Linked DNA regions of Homo sapiens. The protein of the gene in region 1 purifies or fractionates together with the protein of each later gene. This does not show direct contact. Each region holds a gene or a part of one and is shown in the gene's direction. Other genes may lie near its edges. The genes, in order: RAB1B, GDI1, GDI2 and RABGGTA.

What was found.
Region 2: the proteins of RAB1B (region 1) and GDI1 purify together in Homo sapiens (affinity purification with mass spectrometry; 5 studies listed by BioGRID and IntAct, with this or other methods). This does not show direct contact.
Region 3: the proteins of RAB1B (region 1) and GDI2 purify together in Homo sapiens (affinity purification with mass spectrometry; 5 studies listed by BioGRID and IntAct, with this or other methods). This does not show direct contact.
Region 4: the proteins of RAB1B (region 1) and RABGGTA purify together in Homo sapiens (affinity purification with mass spectrometry; 3 studies listed by BioGRID and IntAct, with this or other methods). This does not show direct contact.

What each region holds. Positions count from the first base shown.
Region 1 is NC_000011.10:66,271,626-66,278,012, forward strand, and holds the end of RAB1B (ras-related protein Rab-1B), read left to right. Parts: intron 1-171; coding exon 172-244; intron 245-531; coding exon 532-627; exon of another isoform or gene 628-739; coding exon 740-835; exon of another isoform or gene 836-967; intron 968-4,178; coding exon 4,179-4,310; intron 4,311-4,418; coding exon 4,419-4,613; 3' UTR 4,614-5,867; downstream 5,868-6,387. UniProt on the Homo sapiens protein: The small GTPases Rab are key regulators of intracellular membrane trafficking, from the formation of transport vesicles to their fusion with membranes.
Region 2 is NC_000023.11:154,432,748-154,440,155, forward strand, and holds the start of GDI1 (rab GDP dissociation inhibitor alpha), read left to right. Parts: upstream 1-4,406; 5' UTR 4,407-4,507; coding exon 4,508-4,552; intron 4,553-5,775; coding exon 5,776-5,883; intron 5,884-6,017; coding exon 6,018-6,117; intron 6,118-6,258; coding exon 6,259-6,393; intron 6,394-7,193; coding exon 7,194-7,392; intron 7,393-7,408. Other genes in the region: ATP6AP1 (V-type proton ATPase subunit S1 precursor), read left to right, coding at 184-224, 888-973, 1,461-1,699, 2,392-2,439, 2,527-2,758, 2,935-3,144. UniProt on the Homo sapiens protein: Regulates the GDP/GTP exchange reaction of most Rab proteins by inhibiting the dissociation of GDP from them, and the subsequent binding of GTP to them. Promotes the dissociation of GDP-bound Rab proteins from the membrane and inhibits their activation.
Region 3 is NC_000010.11:5,764,723-5,768,467, reverse strand, and holds the end of GDI2 (rab GDP dissociation inhibitor beta), read left to right. Parts: intron 1-83; coding exon 84-255; intron 256-1,829; coding exon 1,830-1,974; intron 1,975-2,172; coding exon 2,173-2,227; intron 2,228-2,315; coding exon 2,316-2,462; 3' UTR 2,463-3,245; downstream 3,246-3,745. UniProt on the Homo sapiens protein: GDP-dissociation inhibitor preventing the GDP to GTP exchange of most Rab proteins. By keeping these small GTPases in their inactive GDP-bound form regulates intracellular membrane trafficking.
Region 4 is NC_000014.9:24,268,590-24,275,424, reverse strand, and holds the start of RABGGTA (geranylgeranyl transferase type-2 subunit alpha), read left to right. Parts: upstream 1-3,827; 5' UTR 3,828-3,938; exon of another isoform or gene 3,939-4,255; 5' UTR 4,256-4,309; coding exon 4,310-4,312; intron 4,313-4,477; coding exon 4,478-4,588; intron 4,589-4,966; coding exon 4,967-5,091; intron 5,092-5,284; coding exon 5,285-5,472; intron 5,473-5,730; coding exon 5,731-5,934; intron 5,935-6,261; coding exon 6,262-6,345; intron 6,346-6,431; coding exon 6,432-6,514; intron 6,515-6,598; coding exon 6,599-6,700; intron 6,701-6,805; coding exon 6,806-6,835. UniProt on the Homo sapiens protein: Catalyzes the transfer of a geranylgeranyl moiety from geranylgeranyl diphosphate to both cysteines of Rab proteins with the C-terminal sequence -XXCC, -XCXC and -CCXX, such as RAB1A, RAB3A, RAB5A and RAB7A.

The sequences.
Region 1 (6,387 bases):
ACTTCAGTGCACTGTAGCCTGGGTGACAGAGTGAGACCTTATTGCTAAAAAAAAAATAAAAATAAACCAAGGGATGCCTCATGGGGTGGGGGAATCCTGTAATTGTGACTCCAGGATGATGGTAGGTGGGCTCCCTGCCTCCCTTCACGCCTTCCCATCTTCTCTCTCCAGTGACTACCTGTTTAAGCTGCTTTTGATTGGCGACTCAGGCGTGGGCAAGTCATGCCTGCTCCTGCGGTTTGCTGTGAGTAAGAAGCCTCCCATACCATCCACCTGGGGTCCTGACTGGCAGCTGGGGGGAGAAGGGACAACACAGAGCACAGTAGTTGCAAGATCTGGGAACCAGGGGTGAAGCTGTAAGACCTGCCACCAGCACATCTGCCCTGAACAAGACAGGGCTGGCCAGCTGAGTGCTGGGAATTGGGGCTTGGTGGTTCGGAGACCCAGCTGGGGCAGGGAACTGGAGGGAGGCTCTCCAAGTGGGCCTCACCTCATTAACTCCCATGATTTCATTGGCCCCTGAACTTTCAGGATGACACGTACACAGAGAGCTACATCAGCACCATCGGGGTGGACTTCAAGATCCGAACCATCGAGCTGGATGGCAAAACTATCAAACTTCAGATCGTGAGTGTCGCTCTTCCCAAAATCCCCAGTACAGAGGTATCCACCTTGGGAGGGAAGGGACTCTGGGACTCTGGACCTCAGCTGACCTGCTCCTCTGCCTACTGTCTCCTAGTGGGACACAGCGGGCCAGGAACGGTTCCGGACCATCACTTCCAGCTACTACCGGGGGGCTCATGGCATCATCGTGGTGTATGACGTCACTGACCAGGTACTCCTGGACTAGCCATCCTCAGCTTGGCCTCCTTAGCCTTAGGTCTTTGACTCTTCTTTTTCCTCCTTCCATCCTCTCTTTCCTGATGCTTCCTGGAAAGGACACTATTTGTCTGCTTACAGGAACTAACTAGGAAAAAGAAAAAAAATAGGTGACTGTACTTGGACTCATTTCACAAGGAGGGAAACAGCCACAGAAATGGATCCTCTGAAGGCCCTGCTGCAGGTTCTGGCAGGACAAGGCCTCACACCTTCCCTCCCCACCAAGCCAAACTTGCCACCTTATTGTAGACCTTCTGGGCACCTTTGTGTTGTGGGAGTTTAGTCAGGCGGTTGGCTGCTATGCTGGGCCTGTGGCTTCCTGTGTGAAGACACAGTGCAGGGGGACAATTAGAGGGCCTTAGACAAAGAAGCAGGGAAGCTTGAGCTCTGGGCCCAATGTGAGCAGAGATCCAGAAGCTCTGCCTCCAGCAGCAGCGTTAGTCCCATGTGACTAGCAGTGGTGGTAGCAAGGGCTGGAAATGGTTCCATGAAACCTTATAGTTTACAGAACCTGGCCCAGCCCTCAGATTGCCTCTGATGCTCAGAAGAGGTCTGTGTTCCCATCGCACAGGTAAGGAGCTGGGCTCAGGATGGTGAGGTGACTTGCCGAGGGTCCTTCAGCTAGTCCGGTGGCAGAGGCAGAAAGCCTGGATGGCTCATTCCACCTGCTTTGTTTTTTCTACCAAATGTTGTTGCTTAACAGGGCCAATCCCTGAAGATAAGGAGAAGCTTAAATCAGCCGTGGGCCGGGAAGAGTCCCTGTCTGAGGAGCAGCCGGGCTCTTTAGCTCACCAGGGACTCATGATGTCCCCAGCTCTGGACGAGCTGTGGGGAAGCTACATACCACCCAGACAAGTTACCAGGGCCCACCTGACTGCCATATATCCAGTGATCTTATTTCAGCACATTGACCTCTCGTGGCTTTGGACACTGCTCTCTTCTCTCTCCTTGAAAAGTGGACCATCCCCCGCTCCTCAGTCTCCTGCAGCACTCGATTCTCTATTGTCAGTGTCTATTTGCTGGTCTGTCCAGTGCTGCCTCCCATCACCCTGTGTTTGGTGCTTCCCCACTGCCCTGGACTCTCCTCCTTACTCTTGTGCATGGCTGCGGCCACTCTGTGGTTTGCTTCTGCCTTGTGTTCTGTGATTCCTGCATCTAACAGCCGTGGCTGTGGCTTCCCTCCTCTGTCCATGTCTACACTGGCACTTTGTGTCTGTATTAATCCTGATCTTCATGATCTTCTCTAGTAAACTAAATGGTGAGGTTTGTGTTTTCTAGATGAGGAAACTTGCTTGGAGAGGTGTTAAGTAACTTGCCACCGGTCTCACGGGAAGGGCAAAGCCAGTTTTGGAGGGCTCTTGGCTTTTGAGCACACCCTTTCCCACCCTCAAGCAGCCTCTGCAGAACTCAGATGTCCAGCGCTGGCCTCACTGTCTCTCCCCAAACCAGCGCCTCTATCCCCATTTTTAATATTTTTATTTATTTTAAGACATGGGGTCTCACTCTGTCACCCAGACTGCAGTGCAGTGGTGTGATCATAGCTCATTGTAACCTCAACCTCCTGGGCTTAAGGGATCCTCCTGCTTCAGTCTCCTAAGTCACTGGGACTATAGACACACACCACCATGCCCCAGCTGCATCCCCATCTTTGTGACACAATCCTTGTCAGCCTGACCAGAAAACTCTTCCCTCCCCCATCCAGTCAGTCTCGAGTCCCCTCTATTCTCTCCCCATCATCTTTCTGAAATCTGTCCCCTCATAATAATAGCAGTGATGAGGATAATAGCAGCTCTTGCCAATTAAGCACTTGTTATGAGACAAGCCTGTGTTCATTCTCTTCATGCTCACAATCAGCCCTTCTAGGAGGTACTGTTTATAGAAATGAGGAAACTGAGGCTCAGAGTGGTCAGGTAACATACCTGGGGTCACACAGTAAATGGCTGAGCCAGGCCTTCAGCAGCAGTGGTCTGACTAAATCCTGTGTGCTTCCCTGGCTCAGTGCACGTTCTCTTCCCTGAGTTATTCCAGCCATTCCCAGTTGGTCTCTATCTTGCTATTCTGATCTGGGCTCTGCCTCCTGTCAGGACTAGCATAGGTGTGATCCTGTTGCTTCTGGCCTAAGAAACGCCCACTGGCTCCTGGTCTAAGTCCAAGACTTAGCCATGCTAAGACAGTCTGTGCTCTGGCCTCTCCCCAATCCCCCCTCTTTCCTCCCCTCTTCCCCCTCTCCCCTCTTGCCTTTCTCCTCCCCACTCCCCCATTCCCCCTCCCTGTCCCCCCTCCCTGTTGAGTGTCTGCATCCCAGCAACATTCCATTTCCTCCCATTCCCCAGACACACCATGCCCCTCCCGTTCAGTGACCTGGCACATGCTGGCTCCCCAGCTGGCACCTCTCCTGCACAAGGCCAGTTCCCACCTGCAGGCTTAGGTCCACTGTTGCTCCCACCTCAAGCAGAGGTGGTCTGGGGGCTCCCCAGCCCCTGCCTTCTAACCTGTTTTGCCCTTGTGTGTGGCCTGGTCTATTCATCTACTGTCCCGTGAATGTGTTAGGGCAGGGCCCAAGTATGATTTCCCCCTTTGTCCCCAGCACTTAGCACAGGACCCAACTTGGAACATGGCAAGAGGTCTAAGTTTGAGCCAGTGTGATATGACCAGGCTTCTGGCTCCTAAGGAGTATAAGTGGCCCTAGCTTGAGCACTTTCCTGAAAGTCCTGTCCTTTGTGTGTGGGGTAGGGGCGCAAGTGCTGGGAGAGTCTGAAGCCAAGTAATGAGGCTGTTGGTGCCAAAAGTAGGATGAATTTTAGGCTGTTCCCAGGATTCCTGTCTCCCCACAGGCCAGGGCCACCTCTGAGAGGACCCTCGAACTCCTGTGCTCCAAGGCTTCAAACCTTAAAGGGATTTTCAGGCCACGGTGGGAACTGTGGCTCTTGCGGACCCGTTACTCTCTGTTCCTATCTCCCGTCCGCTCTCTCTTTGCTTCTCACATGTGGTTAGGGCCTGCAAGTGTCTCAGGGAGAGAGACAGCTGCAGGGAGCAGAGCTGGCAGGCCCAAGTTGGGGCAGCTGTTGAGGTGTTGGGGCAGCTGGCAGGCTGCTGGGGCTGTTCTGGGTCTCGGATGGAAGAGGGCAGGGAGGAAGGTTCAGCCTGGAGCAGAGGGCTTCCTCTGCATCTCTGCATCGCTGAGCCCAGGACTTAAGGGGCCCGGAGCTGTACTGTTCCCCTCAGAGAAGGTCTTCTCCAGGCCTGGGGTAGGGGTGACAGTTGGGAGCAAAATAACTTTGGCCCCTGGCCCCCTTTAGGAATCCTACGCCAACGTGAAGCAGTGGCTGCAGGAGATTGACCGCTATGCCAGCGAGAACGTCAATAAGCTCCTGGTGGGCAACAAGAGCGACCTCACCACCAAGAAGGTGGTGGACAACACCACAGCCAAGGTAGCAGACGGGCCGGTCTGCCCGGGGTCGGGGCGCTGGGGCCTGCTGCCCCTCACCTGCTCTCCCCTCCTCTTCTCTCCCCTCCTCTTCTCTCCTCTCCCTTGTCAGGAGTTTGCAGACTCTCTGGGCATCCCCTTCTTGGAGACGAGCGCCAAGAATGCCACCAATGTCGAGCAGGCGTTCATGACCATGGCTGCTGAAATCAAAAAGCGGATGGGGCCTGGAGCAGCCTCTGGGGGCGAGCGGCCCAATCTCAAGATCGACAGCACCCCTGTAAAGCCGGCTGGCGGTGGCTGTTGCTAGGAGGGGCACATGGAGTGGGACAGGAGGGGGCACCTTCTCCAGATGATGTCCCTGGAGGGGGCAGGAGGTACCTCCCTCTCCCTCTCCTGGGGCATTTGAGTCTGTGGCTTTGGGGTGTCCTGGGCTCCCCATCTCCTTCTGGCCCATCTGCCTGCTGCCCTGAGCCCCGGTTCTGTCAGGGTCCCTAAGGGAGGACACTCAGGGCCTGTGGCCAGGCAGGGCGGAGGCCTGCTGTGCTGTTGCCTCTAGGTGACTTTCCAAGATGCCCCCCTACACACCTTTCTTTGGAACGAGGGCTCTTCTGTCGGTGTCCCTCCCACCCCCATGTATGCTGCACTGGGTTCTCTCCTTCTTCTTCCTGCTGTCCTGCCCAAGAACTGAGGGTCTCCCCGGCCTCTACTGCCCTGGCTGCAGTCAGTGCCCAGGGCGAGGAATGTGGCCAGGGGATCCAGGACCTGGGATCCAGGGCCCTGGGCTGGACCTCAGGACAGGCATGGAGGCCACAGGGGCCCAGCAGCCCACCCTTTCCTCTCCCCACTGCCTCCTCTCCCTTCCTACACTCCCAGCTCGAGCCGTCCAGCTGCGGTGGGATCTGAGTATATCTAGGGCGGGTGGGCGGGTAGCAGTGCTGGGCCTGTGTCTTGAGCCTGGAGGGAGTCTGCTCCTGCCGCCCTCTGCCCTGCCAGAGACAGACCCATGCGCTGCCTGCCCACCGTGCCCCTTTGTCCCCATGTCAGGCGGAGGCGGAAGGCCCACCGTGCCAGAGGCTGGGCACCAGCCTTAACCCTCACTCTGCTAGCACCTCCTCCCTTTCCCCAAGGTAGCACATCTGGCTCACTCCCCACTCCGTCTCTGGAGCCCACCAGGGAAGGCCCTCATCCCCTGCCGCTACTTCTCTGGGGAATGTGGGTTCCATCCAGGATTGGGGGCCTCTCTGCTCACCCACTCTGCACCCAGGATCCTAGTCCCCTGCCCTCTGGCACAGCTGCTTCCTGCAAGAAAGCAAGTCTTTGGTCTCCCTGAGAAGCCATGTCCCTCGTGCTGTCTCTTGCCTGTCCCACCTGTGCCCTGCCCTCCAGCTTGTATTTAAGTCCCTGGGCTGCCCCCTTGGGGTGCCCCCCGCTCCCAGGTTCCCCTCTGGTGTCATGTCAGGCATTTTGCAAGGAAAAGCCACTTGGGGAAAGATGGAAAAGGACAAAAAAAATTAATAAATTTCCATTGGCCCTCGGGTGAGCTGAGGGTTTTTGCAAGGAAGTTGTGGTGGCCAAGTGTGGTCTGTGGTCTAAGCCCAGCCTTGGGGTGGGGGGATGGAACTGGAACCCTGGGCTTGGTGGGGTGCACGGGGGTCCTGGCTTGGTTTCTGTGTCCTAAGGCTGCTGGCAAAAGCCCTTGACCCCGTTTCCTGAGGCCAGGAAAGCTGCTTGTGCTTCTGTGGTCTGTCCCCAAGGGCCCAGCACCGTTCTGTCAGGGAAAGAGGCAGGCGGCCATCAGCTCATACCTGGCGTGCCGCCGCCAACTCCCGCGGGGCACACGGCAGAGGTGTGGGGTCGCGCAGCCGCTGAGAGGGCCCCCACTGCACCTGGCCCAACCTCCTTCAGCGCCCCCCAAAACCCCACTGCTCCCATTCAGCCCCTGTCCTGGCGTCATTGTGTGTCCCAGCCAGGTGCTTCTGCCGTCTCCGACAGTGACAAGTGCCTCGCACTTCAGCCTTTGCCCTGAGCGCCCGCCCGAGGGGGCCGAGTGCGGCTGTGCCGGTGGCTGGAGTGCCGAGGGG
Region 2 (7,408 bases), on another chromosome or scaffold:
GGACTTGAGTGTGACTGAGAAGCCTCGGGGTGGGATGGGCTTCCAGGAGGGGGCACTGAGGTAAGAGTGTGCAGGCTTGGTGCGTGGGGCTAGTGGGGAGGAGAAGCTGGGGTCGGGGAAGGGTAGTGGGCAGTGCAGGTCCAGGCCGCCTGAGGACTCTGGCGCTCTGTTTGTCTTCCATAGCTCTGGTCTGATGGCACCCAGGGAAGTCCTCACAGGCAACGGTGAGTAGAATCAGGGAGGATGCACGTCCTCATCTAGCCCTTGGGTGGGGGCCACAGAGAGAGCTGGCCTGCAGTTCCTCGGCCTCCTCACTCCCAGGGTGGCCCGCCTGCTTCTCGGGGCAGCTGGCAGTGGAGCAGGGAAATGCTGGCTCCCAGGACCAGCCAGGGACCACCTGACAGAAGACCCTGTCCAGCCAGACCCCACTTGGCAGAGGGGGGCGGCTCTCTGTGCTGGAGGCTGTGGAGCCAGTTTCTGTGCAGGCAGCGTGAATCCTAGAGTTATGGGTTTAATAAGACTGCAGACATTTGGAAAAACAATTCTGGGGACTCATCTATTTGCAATAAAGGACAGTCACTCCCCATGGAAAGGCAGTCGTGAACCTTTCATGGGTGGATGTGGAGTTTTCTGTATTGATATGTATTTTCTTATGTCACATAGGTAGGGCTTGGCATTAGGGAATCGATGACTGAAGCCACAGTTGTCTCTGGGGGAGGCTGGGAATGGGGGTGGGATGAGAAGTAGCTGCTCCTAAGGATCCTCAGTGGAAAGTAAACACACCACTTTCAGATGGTCTAGAAGGTTTCTAAAGCAGACAGTGGGGAGTGTTTCTTTATGCAGGGTGCCTGGTGACCTGAGTCTCTGCTCTCCTTGTTGACCCTCAGATGAGGTCATCGGGCAGGTCCTGAGCACACTCAAGTCCGAAGATGTCCCATACACAGCGGCCCTCACAGCGGTCCGCCCTTCCAGGGTATGTGCCCTTCCAGCAGGGGCTCTGGGGCGTGCAGGGAGAGGCAGTGTGGTGAGTCTGCTTGGAGGTGGGGAGTGTATGCCACAGGTAGGCTGCCCAGGAGGCCCAGCATAGGGGAAGCATGAGGCACAGAACCCCTGTGGTGTGACTATTTGGAGTGGCTGACTCTGGGGGCAGGGCTAGGATGAGCACTCAAGTCCTGCCTCCCCATTCCAGGGGCAGCTTTCCATCTCGTCCTGTGAGGCTTGTGGGTGGCAGACTTGGACACTAAGTCTAAATGACCCTAAGTTTGAGGGACTAGGAATGTCATCAGGGTTTAGGGGGCATCAGGGAAGGCTTCCTGGAGGAAAGGTCTCCTCTGGCTGATGGGACTTTGAGATAGTGGACAGGGTGTCCTGTTGGGAGGGGAAGGAGGGCACGACAATTGGGTTCAAGTGTGACACTCTCCCAGGGCTGCTGAAAGAAGGCTGGTTGGGTGTTTCTGCAGGTGGCCCGTGATGTAGCCGTGGTGGCCGGAGGGCTAGGTCGCCAGCTGCTACAAAAACAGCCAGTATCACCTGTGATCCATCCTCCTGTGAGTTACAATGACACCGCTCCCCGGATCCTGTTCTGGGCCCAAAACTTCTCTGTGGCGTACAAGGACCAGTGGGAGGACCTGACTCCCCTCACCTTTGGGGTGCAGGAACTCAACCTGACTGGCTCCTTCTGGAATGACTCCTTTGCCAGGCAAGGGCACTAGGCTGGGGAGGACTGTGCCACCACAGGTGACCTTCCCATCACTGTGGGTCGCAGGTGGGGCAGGGAGCCAGGGTCAGGTCTGTGTTTTGGGGTGGGGATGGCCATGGTCTGGTTGGGGTCTGGGCAGCGTGAGGATGTAGGAGGTGTCATGGCATGGGGTGCTGTTGGAGGGGGAGTTGCTCAGACTTCTGCCTCCCCATGCTTGCGAGTCTTTGGTTGGGACCTTGGTTGTTAACACCTCAAGGTTACCTGGGAACCTGTCACCTCCCCCTTGAGCAAAACCTCTGGGACTTTGTGTGGGCAAATACCAGGCCAGCTATCTGAGCCATTTATGGGGCAACCATGCCCTTCTGTTTGCTCTCGCCCCCAAAGCCCAGCCCAGGCACCTTAGTGACCCTAAGAGGGAGTAAAAGGAGGGGCAGTGAGCTCAGGGGAACCAGAGGAAGGACCCCCATGCTGGTGGCAAGGGGGACCTGGGTCCTGGCTTCCAGCTCTGTTCCGACCTTGCAATGTGACTGGATCCTCAGTTTTCCTATCTGTCAAGTGGGGACACTGCTTCTTCAGGTGGCTGCAAGGACCCAAGGCAGCTTAGGTAGGAGCAGAGCTGAGGAACTTGTTCCTCTAAGATGCCAAAGGCCCTCCCAGAGCCTCACAGTGCGCCTCTTTCTCTGGCCCCACAGGCTCTCACTGACCTATGAACGACTCTTTGGTACCACAGTGACATTCAAGTGAGTCCTGGGGGTGGTTGAGGTATGGGTGGGCTGGTGTGGCCCCAGCCTCCCCAGCTCACCTGACATCCCTGCCACCTTCCCCAGGTTCATTCTGGCCAACCGCCTCTACCCAGTGTCTGCCCGGCACTGGTTTACCATGGAGCGCCTCGAAGTCCACAGCAATGGCTCCGTCGCCTACTTCAATGCTTCCCAGGTCACAGGGCCCAGCATCTACTCCTTCCACTGCGAGTATGTCAGCAGCCTGAGCAAGAAGGGTAGTCTCCTCGTGGCCCGCACGCAGCCCTCTCCCTGGCAGATGATGCTTCAGGACTTCCAGGTATGGAGCGGGCGTGGCCCAGCTTCAGGTGGGGGAGCCCAGGCTAGTGGTTGAGAGACGAAGAGAGGCTTGGGCTTGGGCATGTAGTTGAGAGTCCTGTCCCTGCGCTGCCCCTGTCCCAGTTCTTGCTGGGCCTCCCAACGGTCCTTTCTGACCCGTGTCTGTGTGTCTGCCAGATCCAGGCTTTCAACGTAATGGGGGAGCAGTTCTCCTACGCCAGCGACTGTGCCAGCTTCTTCTCCCCCGGCATCTGGATGGGGCTGCTCACCTCCCTGTTCATGCTCTTCATCTTCACCTATGGCCTGCACATGATCCTCAGCCTCAAGACCATGGATCGCTTTGATGACCACAAGGGCCCCACTATTTCTTTGACCCAGATTGTGTGACCCTGTGCCAGTGGGGGGGTTGAGGGTGGGACGGTGTCCGTGTTGTTGCTTTCCCACCCTGCAGCGCACTGGACTGAAGAGCTTCCCTCTTCCTACTGCAGCATGAACTGCAAGCTCCCCTCAGCCCATCTTGCTCCCTCTTCAGCCCGCTGAGGAGCTTTCTTGGGCTGCCCCCATCTCTCCCAACAAGGTGTACATATTCTGCGTAGATGCTAGACCAACCAGCTTCCCAGGGTTCGTCGCTGTGAGGCGTAAGGGACATGAATTCTAGGGTCTCCTTTCTCCTTATTTATTCTTGTGGCTACATCATCCCTGGCTGTGGATAGTGCTTTTGTGTAGCAAATGCTCCCTCCTTAAGGTTATAGGGCTCCCTGAGTTTGGGAGTGTGGAAGTACTACTTAACTGTCTGTCCTGCTTGGCTGTCGTTATCGTTTTCTGGTGATGTTGTGCTAACAATAAGAAGTACACGGGTTTATTTCTGTGGCCTGAGAAGGAAGGGACCTCCACGACAGGTGGGCTGGGTGCGATCGCCGGCTGTTTGGCATGTTCCCACCGGGAGTGCCGGGCAGGAGCATGGGGTGCTTGGTTGTTTCCTTCCTAATAAAATAAACGCGGGTCGCCATGCGTTGGGCCTCTTGTCGCTCATTTCTGCGCTGGGCTTTAGGCGCGTGCTCGCCGGAGGGATGCGGGAGGATGGAGCCTGGCGAGGGGGAGGCGAAGAGGCATCCGCGGAGACCGGGAGGGGCTTTAGCAAGCTGGGCCCTAACCGCTCAGGGTAGGGAGGGGCGGTCGGGCCGAGTCCCGGTGCGCTTCGGCGTCTCAGGAGGCCGTCGTGACAATGGCAGCCTTCGCGTCGTGAGGGGGCCGCCCCAGGCTGCCGCAGCGGCGCGCGCCCGGCCGCGGGGCCGCGCCGAGACTCCCGGGGGGGTGGGCGGGGGTGGGGAGGTGGGCGGGCGCGCGCGGGGCGGGGCGGGGCGGGGCGCGGCGGGTGGGGCGGGGCGCGCGCGGCTCCCGCGCACGGATTCTTCCTGGGCCGCAGCACCGGCCGCCGGCCCGCCCCGCCCGCCCCGCCCCGCGCCTCTCTAGACTCTCGGCGAGCAGCGTCGCCCGCGGAGCCGCGCTGGTGCTGTGGCCCGGGCCCTGGCAGCCCTCCCGGGAGGCGAGCCGGGGAGGCGGTGGCCCCTGCCGGTTGCGGCGGGGCGCGGGAAGAGGCGGGACTCTTTGACGCGGCGGAGGGGTCGGGCGACGGCCGACGCGCCGCCATCTTTGGTCCAGTGCGGTGGCGGCGGCGGCGGTGGCGGCGGCGACTGCTGCGGTGAAGGAGGAGGAGGAGCCGAGCGGGCGCTGGCACCGAGGCCTGACCATGGACGAGGAATACGATGTGATCGTGCTGGGGACCGGTCTCACCGTAAGTGCGGCCCCGGCGCCCCTGGCCCTGCGTCGTGCCCTCGCCATCCCCCGCGATGATGCGGCCGCCGGCCCATCCTCTGGTCACTGCCATCTTCTGCGCTCCGCTCCCCGAAAAGCCGGCGCCGTGCCCACCCCGCTGCTCCCCCAGCGACGTCGCCTCTGCTCGTTGCCATGACCCCATCTCCCCGAAGAGGCCCCCTTCCTGGCCGCCTCCTGGGCTACCCGGGTCCGACCCCCGGCGCCCTCCCATCTTCCCTACCCCTGCCCGCTGGACCGGAAAACGCACCCCCACTCGGCCCGATGCCCACGACCCCGCCCACCCATCGCCCCCACCCATCACGGCATCCACCCGTCGCCCGCACCCATTGCCCGCCTAGCGTTGCCTCTCAGCGTCCGTTCCCATCTTGCGCTAATCCCGGTGGGGATGAAGTAGAAGGACCTGGGGTCAGGGGGCCTCGCCAGAGTGGGCCCTCAGCCCGCCTCCTCATCGTCTTCTGGGGCCAGGGGATCCAGGGAATGTTCCAGAAGGAACAGCAGTGGGGGCAGTAAGCACATTCCCGCAACCCCACCTCGGTTGCCCATGGAGACCTCAGGCTGGGTAGCATCTGCAGCCTTTGTCCTTGGGCTAGTGACAGTGACTGGTGAGGGTGTTTATCTTCCCCCTTTCCCCGAAAACCCCGTTGGCCTACTCCCCTCAGAGACTCTTCTTCCTCGGTCCAGGCCCAGATGCCCCTCCTCAGCGGCAGGGGCTCCTGCTATTTGAAGAAAGAGCAGTCCAGGGTGGGGCCTACAATTTCAAGGACTGTGCTAAGCCTTTCTTTTCCTCCCTTTCGAGTGTCCTTTGCAGTCCAGCTGGGTCTTCTCTGTGCCTTATTGTGTTTTATCCGCCTTTTTGTGCGGCTCTGCGTAGGTAGATGCCTCTCGGCGTGTTGGTACTGGAAGGCCATCCTGTGTCTGCTGGATGCCCTGCCTCCCTCAAAGCCTCCGTTATTTCACTCTCCGCCTTGTGAGGGGGACGGGACTCCTTTGCCCAGCAAGGTTGCAATGGAGAGTGTGGTCGGATGAAGCCATCACCCCAATTTTAGGCGAGGCAACTAGCCAGTGGGGATGGTGGGTGGAAGGAGCTGTCCACTGAGGCAGGTTTGGGTGGGGAACAAATCAGGTCTGCTGGTAGGAGCGGAGGCAGGTGGGAGTGCAGCGGATGGTGTCACCCTCCCCCAGGAATGCATCCTGTCGGGCATCATGTCTGTGAACGGGAAGAAGGTGCTGCACATGGACCGGAACCCCTACTACGGGGGCGAGAGCTCCTCCATCACACCCCTGGAGGAGGTGAGGCTGCCCAGGCCCAAGCCTATCCCTGTTAACCTCCCACATAGCGGCACAGGGTGGAAGTAGCTCCCCAGGTGCCTGGAGCAGGAGGAGGTGGTCCCTGAGGTGTCTCTCTCTCTCCCTTCTGCTTACAGCTGTATAAGCGTTTTCAGTTGCTGGAGGGGCCCCCTGAGTCGATGGGCCGAGGCCGAGACTGGAATGTTGACCTGATTCCCAAATTCCTCATGGCTAACGGTGAGGGACAGGAAGGAGGTATTGCAGGTCGGGGGTGATAGGGAAGACCCGAGGACGGTCAGGCTCCAGAGGAGGCACGGCCAGACCAGCTAGAGCCTCTGGAGAGAGCCGTGCTGATGTTGCCCTTGTGCACCCCCACAGGGCAGCTGGTAAAGATGCTACTGTATACAGAGGTGACTCGCTACCTGGACTTCAAGGTGGTGGAGGGCAGCTTTGTCTACAAGGGGGGCAAGATCTACAAAGTGCCGTCCACTGAGACTGAGGCCTTGGCTTCCAGTGAGTGTGGGCCCCCTGAGCCAGAGAAATCATGGGGTGGCAGGGAAGCCAACTGTCTTTGGGATGGGTGGCTGTCCAGAATAAGGCACCCCCTTGTCCAAAGTCACATTTCCCGTGAAGGACCAGAGAGGCCCTTCACTCTGTATTCCCTCTGCCCCATGTCATGCTGCACGGCTGGCTGCCAGGAGGGAGGTCCTCACACAGCAGGGATGTGATGTGGAGGGGAACGGGGCTCCTTTTGAAAGACTTGAGCCTGGCCAGGTGCGGTGGCTCACGCCTGTAATCCCAGCACTTTGGGAGGCCTAGGCGGGTGGATCACGAGGTCAGGAGTTCAAGACCAGCCTGGCCAACATGGTGAAACACCGTCTCATCTCAAAATACGAAAAATTAGCTGGGTGTGGTGGCATGCACCTGTAATCCCAGCTACTCGGGAGGCTGAGGCAAGAGAATGGTTTGCGCCCGGGAGGCGGAGGTTGTGGTGAGCCGAGATCACACCACTGCACTCCAGCCTGGGCGATAGAGGGAGACTCCATCTCAAAAAAAAAAACAAAAACTTGAGCCTTTGGCAGGGCCTCCACTGAATCCCCGAGACATCGCCAAGTGTCTGAGCCAGGAAGGCCCTTAGAGCCCATCCAGGCCAATCCCCTCTTCATCCAGGTGGGGAAACTGAGGCTAAAAAGGGTGGAGAGGTTAACCTAAGATCACAGGACAGCTGGGCTGTGAGTGGGGGTGCCTGCCCTGCTGGGATGGAGAGTTTTGTGCTGCATTGATGCAGAACCTCCTCCCGCCGCGTTCCTTAGATCTGATGGGCATGTTTGAGAAACGGCGCTTCCGCAAGTTCCTGGTGTTTGTGGCAAACTTCGATGAGAATGACCCCAAGACCTTTGAGGGCGTTGACCCCCAGACTACCAGCATGCGTGACGTCTACCGGAAGTTTGATCTGGGCCAGGATGTCATCGATTTCACTGGCCATGCCCTGGCGCTCTACCGCACTGATGAGTGAGGGGAAGCTGGG
Region 3 (3,745 bases), on another chromosome or scaffold:
CTAAGTCTTCCAAACTATGAACATGGGATGTGTTTCCCTATATCCTTGTCCGCTTCAGTGTCTTCTTAAATGCTTTGTTATAGATTGCTCGCTGTAAGCAGCTCATCTGTGACCCCAGCTACGTAAAAGATCGGGTAGAAAAAGTGGGCCAGGTGATCAGAGTTATTTGCATCCTCAGCCACCCCATCAAGAACACCAATGATGCCAACTCCTGCCAGATCATTATTCCACAGAACCAAGTCAATCGAAAGTCAGGTGAGGTTTGAAGACCAGCAGATGTTGGTAGAATTTTGTAAGATATAATTTGCTTTGTGTTTTATCCCAAATTCCTAATTTTGTATGCTGTATTAGTGAACAGACCTTGGTTTACATATGGGGGAAAAAAATCTTTGTACCTCCTCCTGCTCCGGCAGCATTGTGTCAACGCGGACAGATTCAACTCGGAGCCAGCCTTGGACTTGTGTCCATCACCTGTAGAATGAACAGACTGGGCTTGGTGAACCCTGCGTCTCCCAGCTCTAACTAACAGTAGGTTCCTGTGGAGGTTTATGCTTAATAGTTAACTGACCCGAGTATATTCTTGAGCTAATGACATAGCTGCTTCTGTGTCCTTATTTGTAATCCTAGTACCTACATTTGATTCTAGCAGTGTCCACCTTTCATTTCTGTGATCAGGACATGGCTCTAAAATTGCAAGTCCTAACTTATTTGTCTTAGCCAGTTGTTTGTAACCCTTCGATGTTCCCATTTTCCTTTCAACTAGAAGCCCCAAATCTTTTTATTTATCTAAAATTCAGCTTAAAAAGGGTAATCAGGCTTTATGGGACAGGTAAGAGCTATCTGTATAATGATTTTTTTTCCCCCATATAAGAAATGAAATCATGGGAGGCCAAGGCAGGAGGCTTGCTTGAGGCCAGGGGTTCAAGACCAGCCTGGGTAACATAGTGAGAGCTCGTCTCTACAAAAACAAAAAACAAACAAACAAAAATGGCTAGGTGTGGTGGCACACACCTGTAGTCCTAGCTACTTGGGAGGCTGCGGTGGGAGAGGATCACTTGAGCTCAGGAGTTTGAGGTTACTGTAAGCTGTGATTGCATCCCTGTCTCCAACCTGGGTGACAGAGCCAGACTGTTAAAACACAAAAAAAAACCAATCACAAAAGATGATCTGTAGAACAAAGGGACTGGACTTAATCTTCCACAAGGTTCCCAGGCGGGTCCTGGGTCCTTGCAAGTCTGAAAAGAATAAAGGAGGTCCCAGAGTTTTTTTTTTTTGGCCTTTAAATGCTCTCCTATCCAAATGATTTTCTATCCTGGAAATGACACAGTTAACTGGATGAGTGGTATACAGACCAAGTCTAATCGAGAATTCTATCGTTATGCCAACTCAAAAGTGGTTTATGTGGATTCTGCAGTTTTACATTACTGTAATAAGTAAATGAGGACGTCAGTACTAAGTACATCCTTTCTTAGCCATTCAGAACCTTTCTAAATGCAAGGTCCAGAATGGAAGAATCTCCCAGAATAGTTAATATGGTTTGGCAGGTTTTTTAGTTAGGTATGACAGAGCTGTTAAGAGATCTCATTCCAAACTTCAGCAGTTCGCTACCACTTCAATTCTTAATCTCTAGTAGGTTAAAAGAAATTCCTATTGTTAAATATCTGTGTACTTTACATCCAACTCTGTCACCATTTAGAACTTAAGTGTAGAAGATCTTGCCTATTGAGAGTAATTTTAACTCACACCTCATGACATATGGGTGATACCTGAGTATGTTGGGTCCCAGATGGAGACACTTGAGGCAGTGAGCTGGTATCATTTGTTTCTAGATATCTACGTCTGCATGATCTCCTTTGCGCACAATGTAGCAGCACAAGGGAAGTACATTGCTATAGTTAGTACAACTGTGGAAACCAAGGAGCCTGAGAAGGAAATCAGACCAGCTTTGGAGCTCTTGGAACCAATTGAACAGAAGTGAGTTGTGTTCTTTTATATCTGCCGAGATGCAAACTGAGGCCTTTGATTGTGGCTCCATGGTGGGACGAATGTGAGGGCAAGGCAGGTAGCTGCTGGCTGCTCTGTGGGATTCATCTGTACCTCTCAGTTGACCTCAGGCAGAGCCATGGTCAGGTGTGGGACCAGCTCACCTGACTGAATTCTCTCTCCCTCCAGATTTGTTAGCATCAGTGACCTCCTGGTACCAAAAGACTTGGGAACAGAAAGCCAGGTGAGTATGGAAGTGTGAAAGGATATGGGCAGGTTTCACTGGAAGACATCCCTCCATGGTCTTAAGTCTTCGTAATTTTTGTTTTCAGATCTTTATTTCCCGCACATATGATGCCACCACTCATTTTGAGACAACGTGTGATGACATTAAAAACATCTATAAGAGGATGACAGGATCAGAGTTTGACTTTGAGGAAATGAAGCGCAAGAAGAATGACATCTATGGGGAAGACTAACAGCAGTACATGTTATTATGTAATTAGGACACATTTAAAATTTGGCAAATAATGCATATAATGAAATCAATATTGTAAGGCCTGCTTTTGTAATGAAAATGGAGAGAATGAAGAGCGCTGTGCCAGTAAATACTCCCCTTCACCTTTCTAATTATTAACTTGTTTTCATGGAGTGGCTATTCAGCATTGGCAGTTACCACATTCTGTTCAATTTAACCAAACTGGCTTTTTTTTTTTCTAGTGAAGTTAAACAAACATTGGGATACCGACACAGACAACTTGAGACAGTTTTTTTAATCTTTTAATCAGTGTAGCTATGTGCTGCTGCTGCTCAAGAGCTGGATCCATACAGGTTGTGTGTCATCTGTCCTCTTGAGGTTCAGGAGATTCTAAATTGAATATTCCACGGTTTGGGACAGCATCCGGAAGTTTTCCCTATGACTTTATATTTTGTATTATGTCAAATGTTATGGCAGGGCCCAAATAGCATAGCCACAAGTTTGGTTTATGTGGGCATAAAATTCTAACCAAACCCCAGACATAGGGAGTCATTTGGAGAAAGCCTGTATGTGGTGTTTTAACCTAATAAAGTTGATGAGAGAGAAGGGGAGAGGAAGCGAACATAAAGCGGGTCAAGTGTAGTGCATCTTTTGTATCTCAGGCGTGGCTTCTTCAGTGGACCAAGCTGCAATGCAGTATTGACTTGACAGAGCCTCTACTTCTGTCTCAAAATGGCTCCAAATGATTTCTGTACTGCAAAATAAAGCCAAATTCTGGAAACTACTGCCCGGTGTTGGTTTGTGTGTCCTGATTGCAAGGGTCACAGCTGCCGTGCTTCCTTTGGTAGCACTGGAGTCAATGCCAGTCAGAATGCTCAGCAGCGGAAAGCGTGGGTGTCTTCTGATCTGGAAGGATCACAGCAGGTCCTGTCGTCTGGCTTCCCTGTGAGTAGACCTCGAGTTTTATTCTTGACACAGTACCATTACTAGACCTATCATCTTTGTGCAGAAAAAATAGTGTTTAATGATTTTGCTTGTAGCAGCAGTTATAAGGGAGTAAGTGAACTGTCAGGTAGAGTAGGTGCTTTAGTAAATAATTTTTGTGTAGTTGAAATGATAAAGTGTTTACATATAAGGCCCTTTCCCCTGACAGTGATGAGCCTCACGGCAGATGCTGTTGTTTACCACAGATAAACACTGACTCTTCAGAGTATGAAGGAGACAGACTAAGGTAGATGATGTGTTAAAGGAACTAGGGTGGTGATTTAGATTGTTATTCATATT
Region 4 (6,835 bases), on another chromosome or scaffold:
GATGTGTGACTTTGGACAAGAAACTAACCTCTGCAAACCCACTGTATTCCCTGTTGCTTCATTGTAAAATATGGATAATACCTATTTCATATAGGTAGTGAGTGCAGTAAATAAGATGTCTGGGGCTCTGTTGATACTCAATTACTGTTTGTTTCTTTCTATACATAGAGGGCAGTAAAAATCTCTTCTTCAAACATCATTTAGATTGTGGCTTTCAGGGCACGGTGGCTCACGCCTATAATCCCAGCACTTTGGGAGGCCGAGGCAGGCAGCTCACCTGAGGTCGGGAGTTCAAGACCAGCCTGACCAACAAGGAGAAACCCTGTCTCTACAAAAAATACAAAATTAGCTGGGCATGGTGGTGCATGCCTGTAATCCCAGCTACTCGGGAGACTGAGGCAGGAGAATCGCTTGAACCCGGGAGGCACAAGTTGCAGTGAGCCAAGATGGTGCCATTGCATCATTCCAGCCTGGGCAACAAAAGCAAAATTTGTCTCAAAAAAAAAAAAAAAAAAAAAGCCGGACATGGTGGCTCACGCCTGTAATCCTAGCACTTTGGGAGGCCGAGGCAGGCAGATCACGAGGTCAGGAGATCGAGACCATCCTGGCTAACAAGGTGAAACCCCGTCTCTACTAAAAATACAAAAAATTAGCTGGGCAGGGTGGCAGGCGCCTGTAGTCCCAGCTACTCAGGAGGCTGAGGCAGGAGAATGGCATGAACCTGGGAGGCAGAGCTGGCAGTGAGCAGACACCGCACCACTACTCCAGCGTGGGTGACAGAACGAGACTCCGTCTCAAAAAAAAAAAAAAAAGATTGTGGCTCTCAGACACCTGCATGGTTCCCACTTATCCCACATAGGAGGCCAAATATAACTCCTGACAACTCCTTTTGCCTTCAAGCAAGAGGCTTATTATCATCAGTTCCACTGCTCTTATCTCCAAAGGCACCTGGCTCAGCCTCTCTGTGCCAGCCAGCTAAGTTAGTTTGGCTTTCTCTCCCCCACCTTCACGTCATATTACATACCTGAAATACCCTTCCTGCCCGCTCTTTCCAAAACTCAAGCCCTGCCTTCTCTGATGCAGATTTTTTCATGAGACTCACTTCCTCTCTTAAGCCTGCTTGACTCAACCTTCCCAGTTTCAAGATTGCTAATCACAATGTGATTAGTGACTATGATGCAAGGCTGTACCTGGCAAATCTGCACTTGAGGGCATCTGTGTTCCCAAGTATCTGGTTGCGCCTATGAGTGTGCACAGAGCAGGAAGCTAGAGAAGGAGGTGACCACCAACAAAAGAAGGCTGGTGGTGAGGTGGGAGGGCTGGACCAGACTAGACACAGGTCCCATTTGGCCACTTATTACATGGGTGGCCCTCAACAAGTTACTTAATCTTTCTGAGCCTCAGCTTCCTATTACTATACTGAGCCCTTACTTAGTACAGACACTATTCTAAGCACTTTACATAGATTCTTTTATTTCAGCTTAACTTCAACAGATTAACTTCAACTGCAGCAGCTAGATAATATTTTTCCTATGTTACTGTTGAAGAAATTCAGACATAGAGGAAACGCAATACAGAAGTTAAGTAACTTGCCCCAGGTCACACTGGGACAAGCAAGTGGCAAAGCTAGGATTTGTAGCCAGGCAGTCTGGCTCCAGGATCCATGTTCTTAATCACTCTGCTTACTGCCTCCTACCTGTAATTCTGTGTGTGTGCACATCCCTCCTATGTATGCAAAACTCCCATCACAGTGGCTGGCACAAAGAGAACCAATAAATGGCTTAACTCTTTCCTCACTGGGACTACAAATACACAGGGATAGGAAAAATGTCTCTTTTCGAGAATTTGTTATAGGATCTAGGAAAGGACAAGTATATAATGGACACTTTACATACATTTCCAGGGGCTGAGAGAGGTGTGAAGGATATATAAAGATTTAAAGCACTGGCGGGGCATGGTGGCTCACACCTGTAATCCCAGCACTCTGGGAGGCCAAGGTGGGCAGATCACCTGAAGTCAGGAGTTTGAGACCAGCCTGGCCAACATGGTGAAACCCCGTCTCTTCTAAAACTACAAAAATCAGTCGGGTGTGGTGGTGCATGCCTGTAGTCCCAGCTACTCCAGAGGCTGAGGCAGGAGAATCGCTTGAACCCAGGAGGCAGAGGTTGCAGTAAGCAGAGATCGTGCCACTGCACTCCTGCCTGGGCAACAGAGTGAGACCCTGTCTCAAAAAAAAAAAAAAAAAAAATTTAAAGCACTACCTTCTTACCCAGGTGTGAGTTATAAACACACACATGCCACATGGACACACTATTCGCAAAGACATCACACACGTGTACGTGTGGTACACACACACTCACTAGCCACCCTGAACCTCATAAAGGCTCCACCAGAAAACCTTCTTTGCAGTAGGCACAGGGAAAAAAATCACAGTCTTTAAAAGTACATATGAAGGTCTATCAAATCAGACTGGGGCATTTTAGAGAACTTCCTCGAGGTGCCACTTGAGTTACATTTTTTTTTCTTTGTACTGTGGAGTTCAAAAAGTTAAATCTTAAAGATAAACAGGAATTACTGTGGCAAAGGAGGAGTGTGGAGAAAGGAGAGTCAAGAGGGAACAGGCTAACATATTTAGGAAACTGCAAGTATTTCTGTAGGCTGTCATGAAGAGTTTTTGGCAGGGTCAGGCAGGATATACAGCCAGAGAGTAGGCAGAGCCCAAATGCCAATAGGTCTGATGTGCTGAGCTGAGAGATTACAATTCTATCCTGAAAAGGAGCCACTCAGCACTTTTAGGCACAGATATGACGTCAAATCTGCATTTTAGAAAAATGGATTCAGTAGCACAGAGGATGGACTGATAACAAGGGATGAGGTGGAGAACACTGAAAAGACTTTCAACAATCTGGAGAAGAAATTCGGAGTTTGAACTCCTAGTGGCAGTGGGAAGAGAAAGAGTATTTAAGCGAGTTTAAGAAGTGAGGAGGAAATAGTGCCATTCACTACAATAGAAAACATAAAGGCCAATGTTTAGACAGGATGGATGAAAGATAATTTATACCTTTTGGCTTTTGGAGTTTGAGGTGTCTCTGGGACACCAGGTGATATCCAACAGGTGTTTGAATATGTATGTGCATGTATATTATTTATTGTTATTTAAGCTTGCAAGACATCTGGGCTGGAGATATAAATTTGGGTGTCATCAATTTACAGGTAGTAATTAAAACAATGAGTGTGGATGAACTCACCCAGAGAAAGTGTAATGCCAGATTTGTGGGCCAAAACAGCTCTGAGGAGCTCCAACTCGAAGCAGTTGAAGGCTTACATTTAAACATTCTCCCAGGAACAGTGGGTGAAGTGAAAAAGGGGTGAGGAAAGGGCCCTGGAGATCACCAACATTTAGGGGTGGAGGTGAACAGATGAGAAGAGAGAGGCAGAGGTGCAGGAGGAGAAGCCAGAATGGGGGTGTCAAGTATAAAGAAATGGGTAGCGTCAAATGCTTCAGAGGTTAGAGAAAATGACAGGAAACTCCCCCTGTTAGATTTGACATCTAGAAGGCTGTCGGTGTGGCCAGGGTGAGGTCAGTGGAGTAGTGAAGGTGCGGGTTTCCGGCTGTTGGAGAAACCTCTTCCACTAACTACATTGCACTCTGAGTTACCAACTGGCATGGTCCTCCCCCCATTTCACACGCACGCTACAGTCGCCCGTGCGCACTCGTACACACCAGGTGGCTAACAGGTACGAGGCGTTTCCGGACAGCGAGCGCAGAGCCCCCGCGCACGCGCCTCCGAGCCGGCCTCTTCCGCCGCAAGTCCCTCCCCAAGCCTGCAGAGTGCGCTGCGTTTCGATGAGCCGGGACGTGGCGCCGCTCTAGCCAGCGCCTGGGCTCTGTGGCGGGCGCCGCAGCTCCGCGTCCCCCGCGCCTCCTCCCAGCGCAGGTGGGTCCGCCCGCGGGGGGCGGGGGTGCCCGGGAGCCGTGGGACGGGCGGGTAGCGGCAACCTTTGGGGAGCAGAGTGGTCCCCAACGCCCAGGTGCCCCGGCTCGCGCTCTGGCCCGGGCGAATCGGGCTATAGGAAGGGCCACACGGATGGAAGTCCTAGTCCGGGTGCTCACCTCTTGTGGAACGTGCAAAGCCTGTCCCAGGACCTCTTTACACTCTGGGGGTCTCTGCCCAGGCACGCTTGCTGCTTCCGGACACAGCTGTGGGCGGAGCTAGTAGGGGCGGGGCTACGTGATTGACACTTCTCTCCTCAGACTTCAAGGGCTACCACTGGACCCTTCCCCTGTCTTGAACCCTGAGCCGGCACCATGGTGAGAACCCTGAGCCCAGCCCTTCACCTCCGCAGGCCCGCGCCCTCACCCCCAGTGGCAGTGCCATGGTTGCCCCGTATGAACCTAGGGCTCCACAGTGTGGGGTTTTTGCAGGTCAGCTTCTGCAAGGCAACCTGCACTCTTCCAACCCGTTCATCCTTGTAGCACGGACGCCTGAAGGTGAAGACGTCAGAAGAGCAGGCGGAGGCCAAAAGGCTAGAGCGAGAGCAGAAGCTGAAGCTATACCAGTCAGCCACCCAGGCCGTATTCCAGAAGGTGGGGCCCTCAGAGGTAGCCCCGACCCCAAGTAGCTCCCTTAGTATAGTGCAGAGGCCAAGAGCTGGTCCCTAGAGTCAGACTGCCTAGATCCAATTCTGGGTTATCTCACTTATAACTGTATGACTTTGGGCAAGTTGCTGAATCTCTTTGGGCCTCAGTTTGCTCATCTGTAAAATGGGGCTAATAATTGCACCTACTGCATAAGGCTGTTGTGAAGATTAAATGAGAGAATACCTGTAAGGCCATAAAGCATGGTTCATAGTACCTGTTGTATAATGTGGGATTCACAGAATATTGGATGGTTTTAAGTTTACGTTATTTAGTCCTGTAGTGGGAAAATTATATGATCTCTAACCCTGCCACCTATCTTCTTAGCGCCAGGCTGGTGAGCTGGATGAGTCCGTGCTGGAACTGACAAGCCAGATTCTGGGAGCCAACCCTGATTTTGCCACCCTCTGGAACTGCCGACGAGAGGTGCTCCAGCAGCTGGAGACTCAGAAGTGCGTAGGGATTCAGGATCTCAGAAGACTGCCCTGGCCCTGCGCCTGCACTGCCTGGGTCTAGGGGTGGAGGAGAAATGGGGCAGCCAGTGGCATAGATGGAGGATAGTAGGGGGCTGGGTGCAGAAAGTGAGGGGTGAGCTGAGGTTGACTGTAGGAGAGCCCTGACCCCCCCCTTCCCTTCTGGGTACAGGTCTCCTGAAGAGTTGGCTGCTCTGGTGAAGGCAGAACTGGGCTTCCTGGAGAGCTGCCTGCGGGTGAACCCCAAGTCTTATGGTACCTGGCACCACCGATGCTGGCTGCTAGGCCGCCTGCCTGAGCCCAACTGGACCCGAGAGCTGGAGCTCTGTGCCCGTTTCCTGGAGGTGGATGAGCGGAACTGTACGTGGCTGCAGATTCTGTCCCCACAGCCCTCACCTGCCCACATTCTGGTACTGGGGCCTCAGTAAGGCCCAGAATGGGGAGGGATATCCAGGATGGGTCCACTGAGCTGGTGCTGAAAGGGATGTTGGAGCCAAATGCATCCTCCGTGGAGTGCACTGAGGTGTTTCTAGGGGTTCCTGAGGGGACTCTAGGGGTCCCAGCCAGGTAGCTCCTCTTGCCCTGCCTCTAAGATATGCTGTCACCTCTCCCCTCCAGTTCACTGCTGGGACTATCGGCGGTTTGTGGCCACACAGGCAGCCGTGCCCCCTGCAGAAGAGCTAGCCTTCACTGACAGCCTCATCACCCGAAACTTCTCCAACTACTCTTCCTGGCATTACCGCTCCTGTCTCTTGCCCCAGCTGCACCCCCAGCCGGATTCTGGACCACAGGGGCGCCTCCCTGAGGATGTGCTGCTCAAAGGTAACCAGGGTCAGGGATGCTCAGGAGGACTCTGCAGTGCCACCCTTCCAGCCCCCATGCCTGACCCTGTTCCTGAACCTGTCACTCAGGTTTATTGAGCACCTACTTCATGCGTGGCTCCAGGGGTGCTTAAGAATCAGTCCCTGGCTGAAGGAAGCTTAAGTGTCTGATGGGGAAGATAAAACTGACATACGTAGCCCCTGTGCAAGGACAGCATATAAGTGAGACTGGGGGCTGGAAGTACTCCAAGGAGAGGGTAGGGTGTTGGAGTGGCCAGGAGCTCACCAGTGTCCTGACCACAGCCCCATGCCTCCTGGAACCCCACAGAGCTGGAGCTGGTGCAGAATGCCTTCTTCACTGACCCCAATGACCAGAGTGCCTGGTTTTATCACCGTTGGCTCCTAGGCCGAGGTGAGCAATGAGGAAAGGGGCTGGGTGTTTAGCGCTTAATAGGAATGGGAGAGGGTTTAAAGAAATCTGACACTGTCTCCCCGCAGCTGACCCCCAGGATGCACTGCGCTGCCTGCATGTGAGCCGGGACGAGGCCTGTCTGACTGTCTCCTTCTCTCGGCCCCTCTTAGTGAGTCCTGCAGCTTTTGTCAAGAGCACTGTGGGACTGTGGGCCTGGTGCTGATGGGGCTGAAGTCTTTGTCCTTTGTGCCAGGTGGGCTCCAGGATGGAGATCTTGCTGCTCATGGTTGATGATTCTCCCCTGATTGTGGAGTGGAGGACCCCAGATGGCAGGAACCGGCCCAGCCATGTCTGGGTATCCCAGGATTGGTGGGGCAGAAGTTGGGGTCTGGGGCAGGGCTGGGTGGGACAGTCAAAAAAGTGGTTAGGCTGGGGCATTTCCTTGACCCAGTACTCCCAGCTCTGTGACCTGCCTGCTGCCTCCCTCAAC